Regions from separate parts of the Homo sapiens genome. Here all the other regions are linked to region 1. Evidence: fine-mapped expression QTL. A gene starts in region 1. Each other region holds a variant in brackets. All regions are shown on one strand. Distances are between the middles of the regions. Region 1 holds the start of LRPAP1 (LDL receptor related protein associated protein 1). Region 2 overlaps LRPAP1 (LDL receptor related protein associated protein 1). Region 3 has its middle 18 kb from the start of LINC00955.

Evidence for each region.
Region 2: its variant is fine-mapped to the expression of LRPAP1 in whole blood (TOPMed, PIP above 0.99).
Region 3: its variant is fine-mapped to the expression of LRPAP1 in whole blood (TOPMed, PIP above 0.99).

What each region holds. Positions count from the first base shown.
Region 1 is chr4:3,528,054-3,535,628 of GRCh38, reverse strand. LRPAP1 (LDL receptor related protein associated protein 1) reads left to right here and starts at 3,207. Exons shown (of 8, transcript NM_002337.4): 1 at 3,207-3,420. The coding sequence starts at 3,217. RefSeq lists silencers at 2,968-3,027, 3,468-3,717 and enhancers at 3,218-3,427, 6,585-7,474, 7,475-7,575.
Region 2 is chr4:3,504,505-3,512,079 of GRCh38, reverse strand. LRPAP1 (LDL receptor related protein associated protein 1) reads left to right here. Exons shown (of 8, transcript NM_002337.4): 8 at 1-7,575. Among named protein-coding and RNA genes, the nearest start is that of LRPAP1, 24 kb to the left of the region's middle. RefSeq lists an enhancer at 2,032-3,231. The variant T/G (reference allele first, on the strand shown) is at 3,845.
Region 3 is chr4:3,555,079-3,562,653 of GRCh38, reverse strand. No RefSeq gene overlaps it. Among named protein-coding and RNA genes, the nearest start is that of LINC00955, 18 kb to the left of the region's middle. The variant C/T (reference allele first, on the strand shown) is at 3,405.

The DNA of each region.
Region 1 (7,575 bases):
AATTCTGTCCCTTCCACCTTCACATGGCCTCTCCATCTTCACTGCCTCCGTGTCTCTATCTCATCCCGATCACCTTCGCCTCTCCTCTGGCGGAGAGCACCAGCATTCCCACTGGTCTCTGCTTTTCCTCAAACGCATCTCTGTGTAACTCTCCCCTCAGGATCACTCTGTGGCCCCCATTGCTCTGGGTGGAATCTTCCTTCCAGTGGCGTTTCAGTCCCCTGGGTCTGCCTCACTCTTCACCACCGTCTTGTGCTTCTGCACTGAGCTCCAGCCAGACCACCTGCCTGCAGCCACCTGGCGCTACCTGTTCCCGTGTGCTTCCTGCCTTTGCCTGGAGAGAATAACAATCTATAGTCCAAACTCAAGGACAAAAACAAACTGCTTTTTGGCCGTGGTGGCATGAAACCCCAATAAGTCAATGACAATGCTGCATGCTTCTGAAAGCCGGCCAGTCAGGGACAGCCCCACACTACAGAACAGGCCCAGGCAGCAAGAACCTTGTGCCCCTGAAGTCAGGCTGAACACTCTCACTTCTGAAAGCTGGACAATCCTCAATGCCAGGCTTCCCAAGAGACTCAATTTGTTTTGCTCTGAGAGATGGTCCTATAAGCACAGTTCCCCTTTTCTCTCGTAAGCAAGATACTCAGCTTCAGCACTGACCAGCCTCACAATCCGTCCTCACCAAGTGGAGGGCCCTCCCTCCGGGTTCCTCCACGGCCGTATCTGTCTCTGTTCATACACCTTCCCCTCAGCACTTAGAGACACGGGCTGGCATGGCGGGTGCTGGCGGCAGGGGTGAGAAATAAACTTTCAGCCCTAGAGGAGGAGCCCAAGAGGAGAGCATGCCGTCACCTGGAGTCTCTGGTATGTGCCTGGCACCTGTACTGATTGCATTAACCACTGTGATTTTTTAGAAGATGTACTAGTTTGAAATGTATAATACATACGGAGAAGTGTATGAAATATGTACAATTTAAAGATAAGGAAAAATGCATGCCTGTGTGCCCACCACCTAGTGAAGAACTACAACCTGGACACCACTTTGGAAGCCTGTCTGTGTTCACCCGTCGCATTCTCCCTCCTCCCCCAGCCCAGGTATCCTCCATCCTTTAGCCATCCCCTGACTTTCTTTAGTTTCATTGCCTGTGTATGCAGCCACGAATAAAATATTGCTTAGTTATCTGGGAAACCGGGCTGTATAGGAAAAGGGCTCTTAGAACCCCACACCACTGTCAGATGCAGGATCCCAGAAGACTCTGCTCCCAGTCCAGCTTCCAATTCCTGTGGGTTTATAACGGGCCTTTCTAGAGACACTGGGGGCAGGATTCACAGAGCTGGAACATTTGCAGTTAGGACCACATTCCAGATGACCAACAGGGACATGCTTGGGGGGGATAGGCCAATTTGGACTATCCCCTTCTAAGCCCACCAAGACCTACCTGTAGCTCTCAGGAGTGGGGTCAGGGCAAAACATGTATGTGGGGTAAAACAGGTGACCTCTGATTCTAGGCACCAGGAGATGGAGAGAAGAGCAGGAACGAGGGAACACAAGGGGAAGGCAGGCACAGGTGAGAATCTAGGCCAGGCTCACCTGGCCATTCTGTCCTGAGGCTTAAAAACATGCAATGATGGCAATGACAGCATTTGATCTGTCTCTGGAGTCACTTCGCATGAGGTCATTCTCCCTCCACCACCCTCCTGGGGGATTCCTTTACCTCCTCTCCCCCATACATCCCATATTGGGAACTTGTGCTTCCAGCTAAGATGCAGTAACAGACTGAATTTACCCTCTTGCCTGAAACAACTCAACAGCTGGAAAAAAAGAAATGAAACGATGGCTCTGAAAATACTAGAAAAGCAGCACAGGACAGAAGCAGATCACCTTGATTCCAGGGACCTGAAATCTTCTCTGGAACAACACAAGATACAATTTAAATGTAAATTAGGGTAGGCCCAGTGGCCCACGCCTGTAATCCCAGCACTTTGGGGGACCAAGACGGGAGGGTTGCTTGAGCCCAGGAGTTGGAGAACAGCCTGGACAACATAGGGAGACCTAATTTCTACCAAAAAATTTCAAAAATTAGCTGGGCGTGGTGACACGCACCTATAGTTCCAGCTACTTGGGAGGCTGAGGCAGGAGGATCGCTTTAGCCCAGGAGGTCGAGGCTGCAGTGAGCCATGATCATGCCACTGCACTCCAGCCTCGATGACAGAGACCCTATCCCCCCACGCAAAAAAAGGAAATGAATTAACATTAATTCCTCTCAAGATGCCCAGGCTCTATTCACCCCCTTTGTCATTGTCCCTCCAGTTGGAAATTCCTCCCTCCCCCCGCAAAATCCCGCCCACCCTTGGAGGCCTTTTCAGATCATTCTTGCCAGATGAGCTCCCCTTGTCCCTTCTCTGAGCCCAAAGGGGCCCAGCTGCTGTCTGTCTCCCTCCTTCCCCTTGTTTCCCGCGCTACCTCCAGGGCACTTCCCAACTCACTGGCCAAGCCCCCAACGAGCGGTCTATGCTAACTTTGGCTCTGTGAATTTCCTAGAGTGTCATGGGTTGGGGAAAAGCGCGCGAAGTCCTGCCTTGCAGCAGGCGCGAGAGCAGGCGCTTGGGACGCGGGTTGGGGCAGGGGCCCCGGGACGTAGGGGGACGTCTGCGCGGCCCTGCGTCCCCGGGACAACCTGGCCTGGGCTTACCCACGGCCAGGCGCTCCGCGGAGGGCAGAAGCGGGCTGGGCCAGGCTCCTCAGCGCCAGGCCCGGGCCGCAGTGCCAACCCCGCAACGGCACTGGACATGCAAGAGTCGGCGTCAGTGCGCGTGAAGCCGGAGCATTATCAGGCTCAGCCAAACGCGGCCCGGTTCTTGGGCTTTCCGCTCTTTCTGTGGGGCAGAGAGGGAAAGAGGCCTCGAGTCGTGCGGGCTCCAGGCTCCGGGCTCTGGGTGAGGCCTGATCCCTGCTCCCACCCGGCCACCCTCATTCTCCAGTTGTATCCCCTGCCAGAGTCTGCAGCCTCGGGCCGCGGCGTGGTTGCCTGGGAAACGCTTGCGCCTGCGCAGGGCTTCCTAGGCGCTGGAGTCCGCCGGCGGCCTCGCCGCTGCCGGCCGCTCACGGAGGAACTACAATTCCCAGGAGACCGCGCGGTGGGTGGGGGCGGGGTAGTGGGCGGGGCATCGGCAGGCTAGGTTTTCTCCGCGCAGCGCCAGTCGCAGAGGAAGATGGCGCCGCGGAGGGTCAGGTCGTTTCTGCGCGGGCTCCCGGCGCTGCTACTGCTGCTGCTCTTCCTCGGGCCCTGGCCCGCTGCGAGCCACGGCGGCAAGTACTCGCGGGAGAAGAACCAGCCCAAGCCGTCCCCGAAACGCGAGTCCGGAGAGGAGTTCCGCATGGAGAAGTTGAACCAGCTGTGGGAGAAGGCCCAGCGAGTGAGCGCGGCCCGCGGTCGGTGGAGCGGGGCCTGGGGGCGGGGGCCGTGGTTGGGGTCGTTGGAGCGGGGCCCAGGGGTCGGAGGCGGAGGGGGGCGCAGCCGGGGCACCTGTGCCCTACGCGCCCTGTCCTTGGCACAGCCTCCCCCAAGTGTCAGGTGGGGCGCCCCGACCCCTTCTGCAGCAGGAAAGGTACCCGTGCCGGCGACGACGCCGTGTGAAGCAGGTGGCGGCCGGCACCCCGAGGGTCAGTGTCGCCCTCCCCAGCCTGGGCGGCCTGCTGACCCGAGCGTAGGGACAGAACCAGGCTAGATCACAGGTCTCCTGCCTCCCGAGCCTTTGCCTGTTCCCTCAACCTTATCTCCCTATGTGGGGAAACAAGAAAAACAAAATGTTGGGTAGAAAGACGTGTCCAGGGACAGAAGGAATCCCAGTAGCAAGCCCGTGCTTGTTCATTTGAGCGAGAAATGAGGAGGTGAGGAGATGGGATCGGTTTAGAGCACATAAAACGCGACCTTGGGAATGCTGAAAGTCAGTCTTAACAGGGCGCTCACCTGACCTCTCCTTCATTTGAGAGATGAGGGTACGGAGGCCCCGAGGGGAAAGGGCACCCCCAAGGTGGCTCGGCCGGTGGGGCCCCCCGGGACAACAGCTTCCTAATTGGTGCGTGACCCTGGGCCAGCTGCTCTCTTCATTAAGATACGGTTGCTTCATTTGTTAGGTGTTCCTGAAAACACCTGAAATGGGTGTTTTCGAACTATGCCGACCATCTGGGCCTCATTATCTCATCTCAAATGCAGGAGTCAGATTAGATCTCTGTCTCAATAGTCCAGTTTTAAGCATTCCTGAGTCTTTGAGAGGGAAAGTAAGTGATTTGCAGAATAAGAAGGAACTTTTGGAACGAAAAGGGAGAGGAGAAACAGGTGGGGGACAGACAGACGACAGACGGTTATAAGACTGCGTGGGGATGGGGATTGACGCCTGGGCATCAGCTCCACAGGCCCTTCCTGAACTGCTCCTGGGACCAGCAGTCAAGCCCCAGGCGTAATGTTCAGCCTGCGGAGGTGGGAGGTGGGAGAACGCTCTGGGCTGGAGCGGCAGGGCGGCTTCTTGGAGGAAGGGATTCTGGAGGGGCTGGGGACACGGCTGGGTTTGGATGTGTTGATGGCCTCCCAGCAGCAGGGAACAGGTGTGACCAGGAGCAGCCGGGATGCAGTGCTGCCTCCCCGTGCCCACTGCACTGGGCATCTGTTGAGTGGGTGGAGTCCCCCCTCCCCATGAGGAATGGGGAGCCCGAAATAGACTCCCTGACCGATTGGAGGTGGCGCTGAGGAAGTGCACTCGGACCCAGGAACCCCAGCGGCTCCCTTTTGGGTGCTGGCCCAAGTCTTCCACCTGCTCTGCAGGGCCGCCCTGGTGCGCTCCACCTTACCTCCAGCCACCTCCAGCTGGTCCTCTGTCTTTGTCAGCCCAGGCCTCCTGCAGCAATACACCTGCCCTCAGGCTGCCCCTGCACTGGTCCAGCTACCCTCGGGCTGCCCCTGCACTGTCCCCCGGTGCTGGGTGCTCGCCTGACCAGTTTCAGTCTTGGGTTGGGTCATGTCTCCTAAACCTCCCTGAGGTTCACTGGGCACCATGGTAGGGCGAGCTGCTCACCTCCACTTTGGACTGAGCCTTGGACTAGATGATCTTTCTGGTCCCTTTAAGTCCTGAAGTTCTAGTTGTGTGGGCAAGTCTTTTTTGCTGAACAGAACGTGAAGTTCTTCGGGGGTGAGGGTGTTTTGGGGGATTTTGTGTGTCTTCCCCCATTCCAGAGAGCCTGGTACTATGGCAGGCAGGCCTGCAGAGCCCATTCGTCCTGATTTTCCTTCCAGATAACGGAAGCTTGGAGGGTGGCGGTGCTGTGAGGGTGTTCTATCCTGGAGCCAAGTGTGCAGGCGTCAGACCCGTCCGGGTCTTTTTGAGGTTCTCAGTGGCGGTAGTGCATCCCGGGTGGTCTTTGTGCTGTGGCTCTTTCTGCCGAGCGTGCCAGGGCCCAGGGTGGTCAGGAGGCAGGAGGAGCCACAGTCAGTTCAAACGTAGGGGGAGAGAATTGTTCGTGCAAATAGTCACTCCAGTCGGCTTCTTACCCCACCTGACTCGCCGCTCTAGGTAGGTATCAGACGGAGACGGGGTCTTGGATCGCCCCCTGGAAGATAATTGAGGTGAGGGCTGCTTTTTCAGAGAAGCACTTCCTGCCCGGCTCTGCAGCCACTGCTCTCAGCCTCCTGCGACCTGCGCTCAGCAGCCAGGACGGTCTTGTCCTTTCTTTGGTTTGCTTCATGAAAACATCGTGTCCCTGTTTTCTGCATGTAAAGCCACATCCTGGCATATAGGATTGCGTAGTGTGTCAGTAGGCATAGGGTGAAGGGAGCGTTTCAGGAAACCTTTGCCTTTGATGGGCTTGGGCTGTGAGACCTGCGTTGAGGTTGCCGCCAAGAAGATGCTGAGACCCGCTTTCATCAGGCGAGACCCGGCCAGGGGGGTGCTGCTTCATCCTCTCCAGCAACTTGAATCTTGACTTTCTGTGACTCTCCCAGTTCCTCTTTCACAGGCGGGCTCCACTGTGTTGCAAGACTCCTGAGCAGAGGCTGTCCCTGGAGCTTTGGAGGTCAGAGGCCATGCAGAGCCCTTGTGCTCACAGACGACTTCTGAGGACTCTGCCTCTTCAGAGCTCTGTGTGTTGTGTTGATGCTGAGGAGTAAGCTCCAGGGTCTGCATGGTCCAGCTGCGGCGCTCAGGGACACACTCGTGTACCTCTTGGCCTGGGCTGCACGGTGCCATGAGCTCGGAGTCCTTGGCCATAGGTCCTTAGTTTTTTTGGTTTTTTGTTTTTTTGTTTTTTTTGAGACAGAGTCTCACTCTGTCGCCGAGGCTGGGGTGCAGTGGCGTGATCTCGGCTCACTGCAACCTCCGCCTCCCAGGTTCAAGCGATTCTCGTGCCTCAGCCTCCTGAGTAGCTGGGATTACAGGCATGCACCACCATGCCTGGCTAATTTTTATATTTTTAGTAGAGACGGGGTTTCACCATGTTGGCCAGGCTGGTCTCGAACTCCTGGGCTCAAGTGATCCTCCCGCCTCTGCCTCCTAAAGTGTTGGGATTACAGGTGTAGTCCCAGGAGGCACCGCACGCAGACAGTCCTTAGTTCTGACGTGAATGGTGACTGCAATGAGAGTGTGTGAAGCATCTTGTTCTCAGAGGTCTGACGAGTGGAAACTGAGGTCTGCAGAGAGGAGCCCTCAGAGCCCCACCCCAGCTCTCAAGCGTCCCCCCTGGCTTGAGAAGGGCCTCTGAGGATGGGCCAGCCAGTGGCCTCCATGGGCACCTAGGACTCGCCAGGCCAATGCATGACCTCACAGCAGCTCAAGGCGGGTACGGCTGTGCCCTTGTCCACGGAGCTCAGGTGGAAGGAGCTGGGGCACAGTGGCTGGGCTGGGACAGTGCATGCCACCTGCCGTGGTGAGACAGGTACAGCGTGCCAGGAAGCCTTGGTCACCGCCACAGCCTGCTCCTCATGGTGGGTGCCTTGCAGTCTGGCGCGGGCACTCAGGTGAGCGCTGGGAGGATGGCACATGCCCTCTGAAGAGGTGGTCCATTGGCGGTCCTGGTGGCATTGGAACCTGCCCAGCCTGAACTGTGCGGTGTGTGCAGGTTGACACCAGTGGTGTAGCTGTGGACCCTGGCCTGGGTTTCCTGGGGCGTTGAGAAGCAGCAGCAGGTTATTGGAAAGTTCCAGAAAGCTCTGCTGGCACGCGGGTGGTGCTGTGTGGGGAAGGGCCACTGCTGAGGTCCCAAGCAGTGCTGGGCCCTTGGGTCTGGTCAGGAGGACACGGTCGGCTCTGCTTGTGTCTGGGGACACAGGACCGGCGTCGTTTGATCAGCTGAGCCGGCTTTCTTGCCTGCATGTATACCCTGGTTGTTGATGATTTGCCTCGCTGCTTCATGTTTGACAGGTTCTTTTCTGCAGTTGGTTTCCACAGGGTACTTCTAACTTGATGCGTTAACATTTAACTTGAGAGAGGTGAAAGAATCCAGACGTGGGGTCTGGGGTCTGCACGTGACCTGCTGGTCTTCCTCTGCACAGAGCTGGGGCTGCTTTTTGTGGTGGTGCTGCC
Region 2 (7,575 bases), 24 kb after region 1:
CTGGAAGAGGCTCGGGTCCGGCTCCGAGCGTGGTTCCCTTCCCGTGTCTGAGCCTGGAAGAGGCTCGGGTCCGGCTCCGAGCGTGGTTCCCTTCCCGTGTCTGAGCCTGGAAGAGGCTCGGGTCCGGCTCCGAGCGTGGTTCCCTTCCCGTGTCTGAGCCTGGAAGAGGCTCGGGTCCGGCTCCGAGCGTGGTTCCCTTCCCGTGTCTGAGCCTGGAAGAGGCTCGGGTCCGGCTCTGGGCGTGGTTCCCTTCCCGTGTCTGAGCCTGGAAGAGGCTCGGGTCCGGCTCTGGGCGTGGTTCCCGTGTCTGAGCCTGGAAGAGGCTCGGGTCCGGGTCCAGCTCCGAGCGTGGTTCCCGTGTTTGAACCTGGAAGAGGCTCCACCAGGCGTATTGTGTTTTGACTGCAGCTGGATCTTGGCTTGACTGTTGAGATCTGCCAAACATCCGCTAAGCTATCATTTCTGAGAAAGGTCAAGGCTAGAGGCAGCATGTCGGGAGTTGGCGCATCAGGGTTGGAAGGGCCCCAGGGTACAGCATGTGGGTGCCTGTTCCTTTGTGGACTTGTGTGTGTGTGGCTGGTGGGGCGGGGGGTGGATTCTGGTTCTTTTTTTTCCCATTATCCTGAGAGCCTTAAGGTACTCAGTGTGTTGGTGAGACTCAGCCCTGTCATCTAGCAGAAGTGTGTTCCTTTTCATTGCTGTATAGTATTCCATTGCATGACTGTCCTGTGCTCTGATTTTAATGCACTTTATTGTGGGTGGATATTTGAGTTGCTTCCTTTCTGGGGTAATAACACTCACTTGGAAATAGCTGTGGTGAACACTCGTGTGGGGGTGGGGGTGGGGGCCAACTCTAGGAGCACCTAATGGATCTTACGAAGCGTGTTGTCCAAGTATAGAGATGATTCCAAAGTGGTTGGACTGTGTTTCTTTCTCCCAGCTGGGTGGAAGGAGAACACTAGTGGATTGCTGAGACTTGGTGCTCGGTATTTTTAATTATGGACAGCCTGGCTGGCGTTTTGTGGTGTCTAATTGCGGAGTAGCGTGTCTTACTGTATAATGGCCTCTTTTGTATGTGGGAGACCATGGTGTTGAGGGGAGGCAGTTACACAAAAAACCCAGATACCGAGTGTTAGTTCCATGGGTGTGGCTGGTCATGGTGCGCACTCACGAAGGATGTAGGTGATGCCCTCCACTCCGCAGAGCCAGTCCCACAGGGGTACCCATTCTGACTCCTACCACCGCAGCTCCCTACCTCCCGCCTGCCATGGGTTCCACGTGCATGGCTCTGGGCAGTCTGTGTCTTTGCGTGCGTCTGTGTATGTCTGCGTGTATCTGCTTACATTCGCTCAGCATCTGAGATTCACCCAGGCTTTTGCGTGGATCAGCGGCAGACTCCTGATTGCCGCGTGGCGGCCTGTTGTGTGGGTGTGTGCCGCGTGTGTATCCAGTCCCTACTCAGGAGTGTACGTTTCCAGTGTGGGTTGCAGTCAGGATCCATTTCTCCCTTAACTTTCAGATTATTTGCTGCATAGGCTTTTTTCTCCTAATTTGGCGCCTTTGTCAGAAATCAACTGACCTACCTGTGTGGGTCTGTTTCTGTTTGTCCTTACGCTCTTGCCATTGCCACACTTTAGACAAGGTCTTGCTCTGTCCCTCAGGCTGGAGTGCAGTAGCGTGATCTCAGCTCACTGCACCCTTGACCTCCCATACTCCAGCAATCCCCTCGCCTCAGTCTCCTGAGTAGTAGCTGCGACCACAGGCGTGTGTCACCACACCCGGCTGATTTTATTTTTTTTATTTTTATTTTTTTTGTAGAGACGGGGTTTTACTATGTTGCCCAGGCAGGTCTTGATCTGGGCTCAAGTGATGCTCCTGTCTCAGCCTCCCAAACTACTGGGATTACAGGTTGTAGGTGTGAGCCATGGTGCCCGGCCGCCACACTGTCTTGGCTACAGTTGGGTTTATAATAAACCCTGAATCGAGGTGATGTGCATTTTCCAACTCTTCTTTTTAAAGATTCTTGTGGCTGTTTATGTCCTTGGTGTTTCCATATATGTTTTACAATCAGTGTCTCAATTTCTACCAAAAAAACATGCCTTCTGGAATTTCAATAGCAATTCCCTTGAACGCATTTTTGAATACCTTTTCTGAATGTCTTGAATACATGTTGGGAAGAATCGGTGTCTTAACAGTCTCCAGTGTCCACGCGTTGACTGCCGTGTGTGACTCCAGTCGGCGTCTCAACAGTCTCCAGTGTCCACGCGTTGACTGCCGTGTGTGACTCCAGTCGGCGTCTCAGCAGTCTCCAGTGTCCACGCGTTGACTGCCGTGTGTGACTCCAGTCGGCGTCTCAGCAGTCTCCAGTGTCCACGCGTTGACTGCCGTGTGTGACTCCAGTCGGCGTCTCAGCAGTCTCCGGTGTCCACGCGTTGACTGCCGTGTGTGACTCCAGTCGGCGTCTCAACAGTCTCCGGTGTCCACGCGTTGACTGCCGTGTGTGACTCCAGTCGGCGTCTCAACAGTCTCCGGTGTCCACGCGTTGACTGCCGTGTGTGACTCCAGTCGGCGTCTCAACAGTCTCCGGTGTCCACGCGTTGACTGCCGTGTGTGACTCCAGTCGGCGTCTCAACAGTCTCCGGTGTCCACGCGTTGACTGCCGTGTGTGACTCCAGTCGGCGTCTCAACAGTCTCCGGTGTCCACGCGTTGACTGCCGTGTGTGACTCCAGTCGGCGTCTCAACAGTCTCCGGTGTCCACGCGTTGACTGCCGTGTGTGACTCCAGTCGGCGTCTCAACAGTCTCCGGTGTCCACGCGTTGACTGCCGTGTGTGACTCCAGTCGGCGTCTCAACAGTCTCCGGTGTCCATGCGTTGACTGCCATGTATGACTCCAGGTATTGAGTTCATCTTCAACTTCTCCCAACAATGAACTGGAGTTTTCTGTGCATGTGTCTGGCATGTTTTCCTTTAGATCTAGTCCTAGGTGTTCGATATGCTATTGAGGACTGTGTATTTTTATTTCATTTGTCACCTGTGCGTGGTGCTTTAATCCTGTGCCCTAAACTCCCGCCTTGGCCATGGCGGTGTTTCTGTGGACTCGTGGGGTTTCCGTGTGCACACGCGTGTCCTCTGTCTGACAGTGGCTTTGCTTCCCCTTGTCAGTCTGTGCCTCGGCTTCTCACTGCACTGGTGAGGTGAGCCGGCGCTCGCTAATCTTATTCCCAGTCTCGGTGAACATGGGCTCAGTCTCTCCCGGCTCAGTGTTGGGTTTGCACTGGTGCACTTACAGGCAGAAGAGCTTCCTCATTTGCTGAGGGCTTTTCCTGAATCCGTGTTGAATGTGGTCAGCTGCCTTTCCTGCACCTAGTGAGATGCTCATGAGGTCACTTCCTTACCGCATTACTGTAGTGAATTACGCTGACTTTCATATGCCAAGATGACCTGGCATTTCCAGGTAAGTCCCTGTGGCCATGGTGCATTGGCCTTTTCTCTGCATGGCCAGATGAGATTTGCTCATACCGGGCTAAGGACCTCCTGTGTAGGAATGCTCTTGAGGGACACTGGGCTTGGATGTTCATTGTCTTGTCATGTGATGTGTCTGTCATGGTTTGATATTGCATTAAGTGGGCCTCCTGAAACAAGTTCTGCCATAGTTTGTATAGGATTGGCATTATTTGTTTCATAGAGATGTGATGGGTGAGGCCATCTATGCCTGCCATTTTCTTTTTGCTTAGGTTTTTCATTAAGAACTTGATTTTTAAAAATAGACATGAGGCCTGGCATGGTGGCTCACGCTTGTAATCCCAGCACTTTGGGAGGCCAACGTGGATGGATCACCTGAGG[T/G]CAGGAGTTTGAGACCAACCTAGTCAACATGGTGAAACCCCGTCTCCATTAAAAATATAAAAATTAGCAGGGTGTGGTGGTGCATGCCTGTAATCCCAGCTACTCTGGAGGCTGAGGCAGGAGAATCACTTGAACTCAGGAGGTGGAGGTTGCAGTGAGCTGAGATCACACCACTGCACTCCAGCCTGGGCAACAGAGCGAGGCTCTGTCTCAAAAAAAAAGACATGAGGCTTTTGGATTTTCTGTTTCTTCCTTTGTCATTTTTTTAAAGATAGGTTTGTCGCAGAATTTCATCTAAGTTATCAAAACAATTTACATAAATCATTCACAGTATCCTCTGTGCAGTGATGTCCATTCTCATTCCTGCTCTGGGCCATTTGTGTTTTCTTTTCCCCCTGATCAGACTAGCTAAGAGTTTATCATTTTTACAGATATTTTCCCCAAAGAAACCTACTTTTGGGTCCATTGATTTTTTTTTTCTATTGTTTTCTTTTTCATTGACTTTTGCTCTTTTCTTATGAATTTCCTTTCTTCTACCTATTTTGTGTTCAATTTGCTGTCCTTGTTTTAGGTTCTTTTGATAGAGGCTTAGATCATTGATGAAGAATATGAAAGAATGGGATAATACAGTTAAAAACTTGGTCTACTTATGCCCATTAGAGAAAACATTCTTAAGCACGCATGGAATCTTTTAAAAATGGACGAGGTACTAGGACCCAAAGCAAATGTCAGTAATTCGCAGATGATAATGTATAAATATATGATATGTAGGTAAATAATACAAATCACATTCTTTGGCCAGAGTGCAATTGAGGAGGAAATCAGTAACAAAAAGACAATTAAATCCATTTGATTCTTTTGTTTTCGTTTTGTAGTAACTTGCACTTCCCTGGTGCCAGAGGCATGACACCTTTTTGTCTGCTCTTGGCCATTTGGGTGGCGTCTTTGGGAAGGGCCTACTTAATTCTTTTGCCTATTTAAAAAACTGGGTCTTGGAAATCTTGTCTTTTTTTTTGAGTCAGGATCTTTCTCGCACAGGCTTGGAGTGCAGTGGTGCGATCATAGCTCACTGCAACCTCAAACTCCTGGGCTCAAGCGAGCCTCCCACCTCGGTCTTCTGAGTAGCTGGGACTACAGGCATGCATCACTATGCTCTGCTAATTTAAAGAAAAGGTTTTTTTTATAGAGACTGGGTCTCGCTGTGTTGCCCAGGCTGGTCTCGGAGTCCTGGTCTCAAGTGATTCACCTGCCTCCACCTCGCGGAGTGCCAGGATTACAGGTGGCGGGAGCCGCCACACCCAGCCTGGTCTTAGCGTTATTCCCAGGTCTAGGTGTGAGTCCTTCCTCAGATATGTGTTGTGAATAATTTCCGATCCTCTGGCTTGCTATTTTACTTTCTTAATGGTTATCTTTTGGAAAGCAAAGGTTTCCAGTTTGATGAAATCTAATTTTTATTTTTTATTTTTCCGTTCTAGTGGTCTTTCTATTTTCTCATCAAATTGAGACTTTGGGGAAACTACACAGCAGCAAACCAGGATATATCCTCTTAAAAACAGCTCGAGCCGGCCGGGTGCGGTGGCTCATGCCTGGAATCCCAGCACTTTGGGAGGTGGAGGTGGGCGGATCACGTGAGGTCAGGAGTTTGAGACCAGCCTGGCCAACATGGTGAAACCCCATCTCTACTAAAAATAAAAAATTAGCCAGGCATGGTGGCAGGCACCTGTAATCCCAGCTACTTGGGAGGCTGAGGCAGGAGAATGGCTTGAACCTGGGAGGCAGAGGTTGCAGTGAGCCGAGATCGCGCCATTGCACTCCGGCCTGGGGACAAGAGCAAGACTTCGCCTCAAAAAAAAAAAAAAACCCAGCTTGAGCCAAGTGTGGGTGGCTCCCGCCTGGAATCCCAGCACTTTGGGAGGCTGAGGCGGGCAGATCACTTGAGGCCAGGAGTTTGAGACCAGCCTGGCCAACATCACAAAATCCCATCTCTACTAAAAATACAAAAATTAACCAGGAGTGGTGGCAGCATCTGCCTATAATCCCAGCTACTCGGGAGCCTAAGGCACGAGAATCACTTGAAGCTGGGAGACAGAGTTTGCAGTGAGCCAAAATCGTGCCATTGCTCTCCAGCATGGATAACAGAGCAAGACTCTGTCTCAAAAAAAAAAAGCTTGAAAATTTAAAAATATCTCAATAATTATGAGATGCAGTGATTTTTTTTTTACTTCCCTAAGCTGGGTTTCCAGGTATCTCTAGGTTCAGCTCCTCCGGGGCTGGAAGTACATGAAGGGCAGCATTGCCCACCTTGACCAGAGCAGGCTCGGAGCAGGGCAGTGGAAGAGCTGGTCCCAGCTCAGCCCAGCCTGCTGGGTCAGCATCCATCTGAAAGGTCATCTCTACCCAGGAACTTGATGGCTTCCAGCTCCACCCTAACAGAAACCTCCCCAGCATCTTGCCGAGTTGTAATCCAGGGTGGTGGTATAGACGGTCTTGGGGTAGCTGGTATAGACGGTCTTGGCGTAGCTGGTATAGACGGTCTTGGGGTAGCTGGTATAGACGGTCTTGGGGTAGCTGGTATAGACGGTCTTGGGGTAGCTGGTATAGACGGGCTTGGGGTAGCTGGTAGTGGTGCTCAGGAGGCGTGTGGGCTGCTGGTGCAGCTGGAAGCGCACCTCAGCCATGGTGTTGTGCCAGGTGTGGTTGGGGATGCAGGGGACGTTCCGGCCGCAGGAGGCCCCTGCCAGGCACAGGCAGCTGCGCGGTGTGGAAGAAGTGCCGCTCGGAGTCATGCTTGACAAGGAAGTACACCTTACTCCTCTCAGTGGTGAGGGGTCAAACCACTCCTTCCCAGCGATGGGGCCAGCAGCCTGGCGAGGGCTAGGCACCGGGGAGGGATGCTGGATTTGGAGCTGGGGGGAAGGGGTCACCCTGCATTGGGCTCCAGTGCTCCGGGTGCCATGCCTGCTCCCCCACCACTGCCACCGCAGCCGCTGCGGGACACCAGGGGCTGGGGCTGAAGAGCAGCCTCGAGCTGGGCTGTCCAGGACACGGTCGCCCTTCTTCCTCGTGTCCGTGAGCTCAGGCACAACCTGCAGCTTAGCCAGCCCACTATGGCTGCGTGCGTGGCAGGACCCGGGCCACCATGGCTGCGTGCATGGTAGGGCACATGATTATTTTAGCCTCTGGTATCACTAACCATCCCTAAAGTCTCCAATGGTCTGTTCCTGTCTTTCCCTCTGGTTCACTTGTGGGGTCATGTTGTCTTCTGTTCTTTGTTATTTATTTTTTTCTTGAGACGGAGTCTTGCTCTGTCGCCCAGGCTGGAGTGCGTTGGTGCGATCTCGGCTCACTGCAACCTCTGCCTCCCAGGTTCATGCGATTCCCCTGCCTCAGCCTCCCAAGTAGCTGGGATTATGGGCACCTGCCACCATACCCAGCTAATTTTTCTGTGTGTGTGTGTGTTTTGTTTTTTGGTTTTTTTTTTTTTTTTTTTGAGATGGAATCTCAATTGCTCAGGCTGCAGTGCAATGGCGCAATCTTGGCTCACTGCAACCTCCACCTCCTGGGTTCAAGAAATTCTCCTGCCTCAGCCTCGCAAGTAGCTGGGATTACAGGCCCCTACCACCACAGTGGGCTAATGTTTGTATTTTTAGTAGAGACAGGGTTTCACCATGTTGGCCAGGCTGGTCTCGAACTCCTGACCTCAGGCAATCCGCCCACCTCGGCCTCCCAAA
Region 3 (7,575 bases), 27 kb before region 1:
AAAGGCCGGGGAAGGTGGGGGTGTCCTCCCCAACTCCCGAGCCTCCTTCCACGTGGAGAAAACTGACTTCTCCGACCCCTGCCTCTCTCCCACCATTTGTCACCCACCCCCACGCAGGGAGGGGTTGGCAAATCCAGGCGGGGTCTGCAGGGCAGGCTGAGCTCACTCTCCGCTGCCACCTGCAGGGGTGGCCTGCTCTGCTGAACAGGTGGGGGCTCCCTGGAGGCTGGCCTGGGCTGCACCTTTGGGCAGGTGGCCCCTCCACTCTGGGGTTCAGGGAAGGCCCCCTTGGCCTTCACTCTGAGCCGCGTCCTCCGACCAGCCTCCATTGGGAATAACGGGCAGCCTGGCATCACAGCCTCTGTGGGCCCCTCCTCTGGGCTAAAGTATTACGAATGATGTTTCATAACTGCGTTTGTAGAAAGATGACTACAGCCCAGGCTGCACTGTGTTTATTCTGATTTTAGAAGGCATTAAACCACTTTCCTGACCCCTAAAAGTCTCCTGGGCCCTGGCACTAAGCCTGCTACACCCTGTGAAAGGAAAATCAATCTCAGGCCCCAAAATTACCAAGCCAAGGGAAGAGTCAAGCTAGGTACTGCTCAGGCAAACCTGCCTCCCAGTCCACTCCTGAATAAGATGGCTACAGAGACTAAAAAGCCACTACCTCCCTCAAAATTTGCCCATGAGGAAATTCCTCATAGACAAATGACAGACAGGACCCAACGCCATCCCTCTGCTCCCCTGAGACAAATCCATATCTGATGGCTTCCTCTGCCCTATTGTTGATATAAAAATACAGATTCCCTGAGCCAGACTAAATTGTGTTTCAGTGGGAAGCCGATCAAGGTCTCAAAAGAATGCAACAGTTTGTCTCTTACCTACTTATGACCTGGAAGTCCCCCACCCCCGCAAGTTGTCAAGCTGCCCCACCTTACCTGACCAAACAAACGTACATCTTACACATATTGATTGATGTCTCATGTCCCCCTAAAATGTACAAAAGAAAGCATGGTGGCTCACGCCTGTAATCCCAGCACTTTGGGAGACCAAGGCAGGTGGATGACGAGGTCAGGAGCTCGAGACCAGTCTGGCCAAGATGGTGAAACCCTGTCTCTACTAAAAATACAAAAACTTAGCCATGCATGGTACCATGCGCCTATATTCCCAGCTACTGGGGAGGCTGGGACAGAGAATTGCTTGAACCCGGGAGACGGAGGTTGCAGTGAGCCGAGATCGCACCACTGCACTCCAGCCTGAGCAACAGAGTGAGACTCTATCTCAATAAAATAAAATAACAAAAAAAAAAAAAAAAGCAAACTGTACCCTGACCACTTTGGGCACATGTCGTCAAGACCTCCTGAGGCTGTGTCACAGGCCCTTACTTCACCTTGGCAAAATAAGTGTTTTAAATTTATTGAGACCTGTCTCAGATATCTTTTGGTTTACAACCTGATGGAGGAGTTGGCACTGATAGAAGGGTTTTGGGTTTCCAGCACCTGCCTTCATGCCTTACTTCTCGGTGGGCTCAGGACTCAGAATGGAAAAGAGTCCCAGGAGACCCCAGTAGCTCTTCAACTCTTTTACTCTCGCTGTTTTCTCTCCTTTACAGCAGACACCACTATCTGCAAAGGGTCCTGTTCGCTGCTTCTGCCTGCCAGGAAGCACAGCCTAGAGGGCAGTGTCCATGACTGTCCTGAGTAACCACTGGGTCCCCAGCATCTCAGCTTCACAGCTGTTCCGTAATGACCTTCAGATGGAGGGACGAGGCGGGTGGGTGGGGGGATGGATGGATGGATGCATGGATGGGTGGATGGGTGGATAGGTGAGTGGGTGGGTGGATGGATGAGTGGGTGCATGGGCAGGTATGTGGATAGATGGAAGTATGGGTAGATGGATGGGTGGATGGATGGGTCAATACGTGGATGGGTGGGTGGGTGAATGGGTGGATGGATGGATGAATGGATGAGTAGATGGATGCATGAATGGATGGTTGGATGGATGGTGGATGGATGGGTGAGTAGGTGGATGGACAGATGGGGAATGGATGGATAGATGAACAAATAAGTGATGGATGGGTGGGTGTATGGATGGATGGGTGGGTGGATGGGTGGGTGGGTGGATGGGTGTGTGGGTGGATGGATGGATGTGTAGATGGGTGGATGGATAAGTGGATGGATGGGTGAATGGGTGGATAAGTAGATGAATGGGTGGGTGGAGAAATACATGAGTGTGTGGATGAATAGGTTACAGAGTAAAATGCCACCACCAGAGCAGTGCAACAGCGTGCTTTGCACTCAGCTCTGCCATGGAAAAAGTGGTTCCTTCCCAGGCTCTCACCAGGCTCACATGGGCTCCAGACCCCTGCACCCCCAACCAGACTGGGGACACAGGGACTGTCTGCTCAGATCTGCATCCATGCACCTGGCCAACACCAAGTGAGTCACAGGGAACCAGGTGGCCTGAGAGAAGGACCGATGACAGATGGCCTCACCCATGTCGCCAGGAGGCTTGGGTCCCAGTCCTGTGGCCCCACCAGCCAAGAGCTTGTGGACATTCAGAATCAGGCTTGCTGGTTTAAGCCCGGGCATGCAGCACCAACATTGTCTGCCCATGGGCTCTCTGGGTCGTGCCCTGCCTGACTCAGTCCCTGCATCACCAGTGCCAGGCCAGGCACAGACAGGCTCAGTGGGGTGGGCTAAGTAGTGCTGGGGACCCAAACCAGGCATCAGAGGGATTGAGATGCCCCCAGGCTGACTCCCACTCAAGCGGGTCCCCCCGCCTCCCCCCGAGCCCATCCCCTCTGTCCACCTGCTGCCACTCTGACAGCTACAACCAACCCAGGCTCGGGGCTGCCTGGACTCTGCCTACAACTTCACAGGCTCACTCCCATGCTGTCCTTCACACCTGGAGAAGTGCCAAGGTTACCAGTGCCACAGAACAAACAGCCGCATGCACTCTGCACCCTGCTCAGCCATTGAGACAGCAGATTCTGTAGCTTTGGGCAGTTCCCACATCCTTCCAGTCCTGATCTTTCCCCTGGAAGCCAAGGAGCATTCAGCGCCTTCTCTACGTGCTCTTGGCCCCTGTCCACAACAAAGGCCACAGGTCTCTTGTTGTGGAACTATGAGTGAACCCAGCGTTCTCCCCAGGGACCCCAGCACAAAACAAGCTCTCAACACACATGAGTGAATAAAATTGTCCCAGAAAGCGGGAGACTTTACACAGTGGCTACAATGTCCCTAGTACACTGCCACAGTCCAGAAGGGAGAGAAGGGGCTGTGCACACCAGGAAGCCAGAAGCCCACATGCACCTGCACAGGGTCTGTGCATGGAGCTCCGGCAGGTCCAATCTCTTGGCCTTCAGAATAATGATGTAAATACAGGCACAAACATGGAGCAGG[C/T]GCCACTCAATGTGCAAACCCTCCCCCTTCTTCTGGTGAGGCCAGAAGTACCTAGGTAGGAGCAGCCCCTACCTCCGACCACCTCCCTCCCTGCAGTGGGAATAGCAGCCCAATCCCCAGGCTGCAGGGATCCACAGGCTGTGCAAGTGTGGCTGTACCCCAGCATGCCCTGGTGCGAAGCTGTGCCCAGGGAGATGTTATCTGCACCCCAGACTGCCTGTGGTGCTGCAGAGTGGTGCCGAGGACGGAGCAGGGCACACCTGGAGTCTATATCACCTGCCTTCCCTAGGGAGTCTTGGGCCCTCTCCACATTCAAGGCGAGGGGAGCAGGGGATCTCCACGAAGACCCCCTGAGCACCTCCCTTCTCTTTTTGCTGATAAATAACCCAAGGCTTAAGGGGTTTTGGAACCAAGACATGGTCACTGATGTTAGAGGAATGGCTCGCTCTCCCTCCTAGCATCCCTACCAGGTAAGGGGGGGCAATTGGTTGCTCCAAGCACCCTGGTTGCTGTAGGAAGGAGAATGGAGACATCGGGCTGAGCCCACTGGCCTCCTTCAGCGCTCGGGCTCTCCCCTGCAGACAGCCTTCCTCAGCAGCCGCACAGCTCAGGGCTTCTCCTCCCTGGGTGCCAGTAACCCCAGGTAAGCCTCTGGCTGCCCGGCAATTCCAATACCCAGAGGGAGGAGCCAACAGGGCAGGCCACGTTCTCACCAAGCCATCTGCAGAGGGGTCAGGTCCACCCTGAGTCCTCCCTTCTCAGTAACAAGCTGCTACTGTGTTTTCCATTGTCCCACAGCTGATTTGTCAGTCAGTGCAATCACAGCGAGGACAAACACTAATGCCCCTCCTGAGACCTCTCTTCCGGCTGATGGTGTGGACCTTGACTCCACAGCAGGTGTCTGCAGGCCCTCCAGCTGGCCCTCGGTAGCCTGGAGTGGCTCATCCTGGACAGACTCACCGCTATGACGCAGGGGGAACTGCCAGGAGTCCCTGAGCGAGGTGATCTGAGAAATGCCATGGCAGTGTTCTAAGCCAGCAGCCTGGCTTACTCACAACCTCTCTGCTGTGTGACCTTGAGCAAGTGCCTTAACCTCTCTGAGCCTCAGCTTGCCCCTCTGTTAAAGAATGATCATATATGACACCTAACAACGTTATGTGGAGTATCAGCAACAAGGAATCCACTGCAGCCAGTGTTGCAGGTGCAACTGGCTGGGGCTGGTGTCACGGGTGGTAAAAGAATTTACCGAGACAGTCGTGGGTAAAGAAAGTCTGAAGACACCTTGCAAGAGAACAGCAGGCAGCATGGCAGAGAGAAGGCCACCTCCCCAGGGGCAGGGGCCAGGGGGAAGTTTGATAGGGTCACACTGGAGAGGCGACATGCAGACAGGGTCATGCTGGAGAGGCCACATGCAAACAGAGTCACACTGGAGAGGCCACATGTGGATACAGTCATGCTGGAGAGGCGACATGCAGACAGGGTCACTCTGGAGAGGCCACACGCAGACAGGGTCACGCTGGAGAGGCCCCACGCAGACAGGGTCACGCTGGAGAGGCCCCACGCAGACAGGGTCACGCTGGAGAGGCCCCACGCAGACAGGGTCACGCAGGAGAGGCCCCACGCAGACAGGGTCACGCTGGAGAGGCCCCACGCAGACAGGGTCACGCTGGAGAGGCCCCACGCAGACAGGGTCACGCTGGAGAGGCCCCACGCAGACAGGGTCACGCTGGAGAGGCCCCACGCAGACAGCATCACGCTGGAGAGGCCACATGCAGACAGGGTCACTCTGGAGAGGCCACATGCAGACAGGGTCACTCTGGAGAGGCCACATGCAGACAGGGTCATGCTGGAGAGGCTACATGTGGAAACGGTCACACTGGAGAGGCGACATGCAAACAGGGTCACGCTGGAGAGGCCACATGCAGACAGGGTCACGCTGGAGAGGCCCCATGCAGACAGGGTCATGCTGCTGGAGCTAACGTGCAGAGTGAGGTATTTGGTAACATGAGGTTGTGCAAGCGGGCTGCTTGTGGTTAGCCATTTCTTAGAACAACGGCTCTCCCCGACCCTAGTTCATGTTCTTGCCAGCTAGGGCCTGTGGTGCCATGGAGCTGTGCAGAGGAGGGAACCCCTTCCTCATTTCTATCAGCTGATCGGGACTCCACAGTTTGGTTTCGCTGCATATGACAATCCCAGCAAAAGAAGCATAAACAAGAAAGAAGCTGATTTCTTTCTGAAGGGAGAATCTGGGGATGACTGATTGAGGGTGAGGTGGCAGCTCCTCGATGTCCTCAGGGACCCAGATCCTGGCTGTCCTGCTCCTCGTCCTCCACGCATAGTGTCTAGCCTCAAAGCCACTCCATGGTCCAAGGTGGCTGCTGGTGCTCCAGCCATCAAGACCACAGGACAGGTGGAAGAAAGCTGGAAAAGTACAGGGCAGAAAAGGGCCCCTCCCAGAAGTCCCAGCTGAGTCAGCTTGTTTTTGAGCCATCTTCCTGGAAGTCTCCTACAGCACTTCTGCCTTTAACCCACTGGCCACGACTTAGCAGCTCGGCTCCACTTAGCCTCAGGGAGGAGGCTGGGAGATGCAGGTTTTCATTCTGGCCAGCTACATGCCCCACGACGCATCAGGGTTCTGCCTCCGCGGAGGAAGGGAAGAGGACCATGTCTGTACAAGGGGAGCTAGACCCACGATAAACATGAGCCACGCTAATGTTGTCAGCATCCCCAGAACAGCCGGCAACACAGCCTCACATCACACCCAACCTCCCGCCAGCCTCCAGCCCTGGGCAGCGTCCTCACTGCACCGCAGCCTAGAGAGGGAGCCAGAGTGCAAAAGGGACAGAAAGGGAGAGAACCGGAGGCCACGCTGACCCGAGCAGCCAGGGACAGAGGACAGACCCGGGAGGCAGATGGGAGTTCAGGGCAAGGAAAGTCTTGGGGGCTGCCTGGGGCGGGGGGAGGGAGATGTGGGGGGCAGAGGTAGGGGTGAGCTGCACCTGGGAGGGAACATGCACCCTCTTCCTAAGGAGACCCTGAGAGGCTCAGGGGAGACGGTAGCATGCAACAGCACCTGCTGCTCCCCTCTGCAGGAGGCCGACTCCACGGAGGACCATGCTCTGGCAGAGGAACCCAAATATGCATTTTTCCCACACCTCAGCCTCTCCTGGCCCCAAGGCAGGTACAGGCTCAGAGCTGGGGAACCGGCTGGAGATTTTCCTCTTTTTGCTGACTCTGCCCTGGCATATTCTGAGATACAGGGGTCAAGACTTCAACATATGAATTTGGGAGTCACAGTTCAACCCAGCATGCTATACAGATCTCAAGGGTGTCACTCAGGGAGTTGACAAAAGCGGACTCCACCAAGATAAGAACCTGACCACCCCCGAGATATGCGCTCATCAGTCCCCACTGCACCCCCTCCAGAGGCGACTTTTCATTGCAGATCAGCGTGACCTGTTCTAGAGCTTCCTACAGGCAGAGTCAGGCCGCACTGGCCCGCCCCAGCTCTCAGAGGCCGGCCATCACTGTGCACCCACACACCACCAGCTGTAACCCAGGCACAGGACCTCAAGGTGGGCTGGCTCAGCTGCCAACAGGAGCGAGTGGTGCTGAGGTCCTCCCAGGAGCCGTGGCCCAGCACCTCCTGGCCGGAACAACCATCCTATTCAAATAAACGAGTAACAAGAATGGGCACGCTCTCCACTTCCAAAAGCAATGCTGGCCGGGCGCAGTGGCTCACGCCTGAAATCCCAATGCCAGAGGCGTGTGAACCAGAGCAACTCCATCTTGAACAGGAGCTGGGTAAAATGAGGCTGAGACCTGCCGGGCTGCATTCCCAGGAGGTTAGGCATTCTAAGTCACAGGATGAGATAGGAGGTCGGCACAAGATACAGGTCATGAAGACCTTGCTCATAAAGGAGGTTGCAGTAAAGAAGCCGGCCAAAGCCCACCAAAACCAAGGCGGCCACGAGAGTGACCTCTGATTGTCCTCACGGCTCATTATATGCCAATTAGAATGCATTAGCTGCTAAAAGACACCCCCACCAGCACCATGACAGCTTACAGATGCCATGGCAATGTCTGGAGGTTACCTTATAAGGTCTCAAAAGGGAGGGGAGGAGACCTCAGATCCTCTTCATCCCTTTACTTTCCTGATAAACTTGCTCTC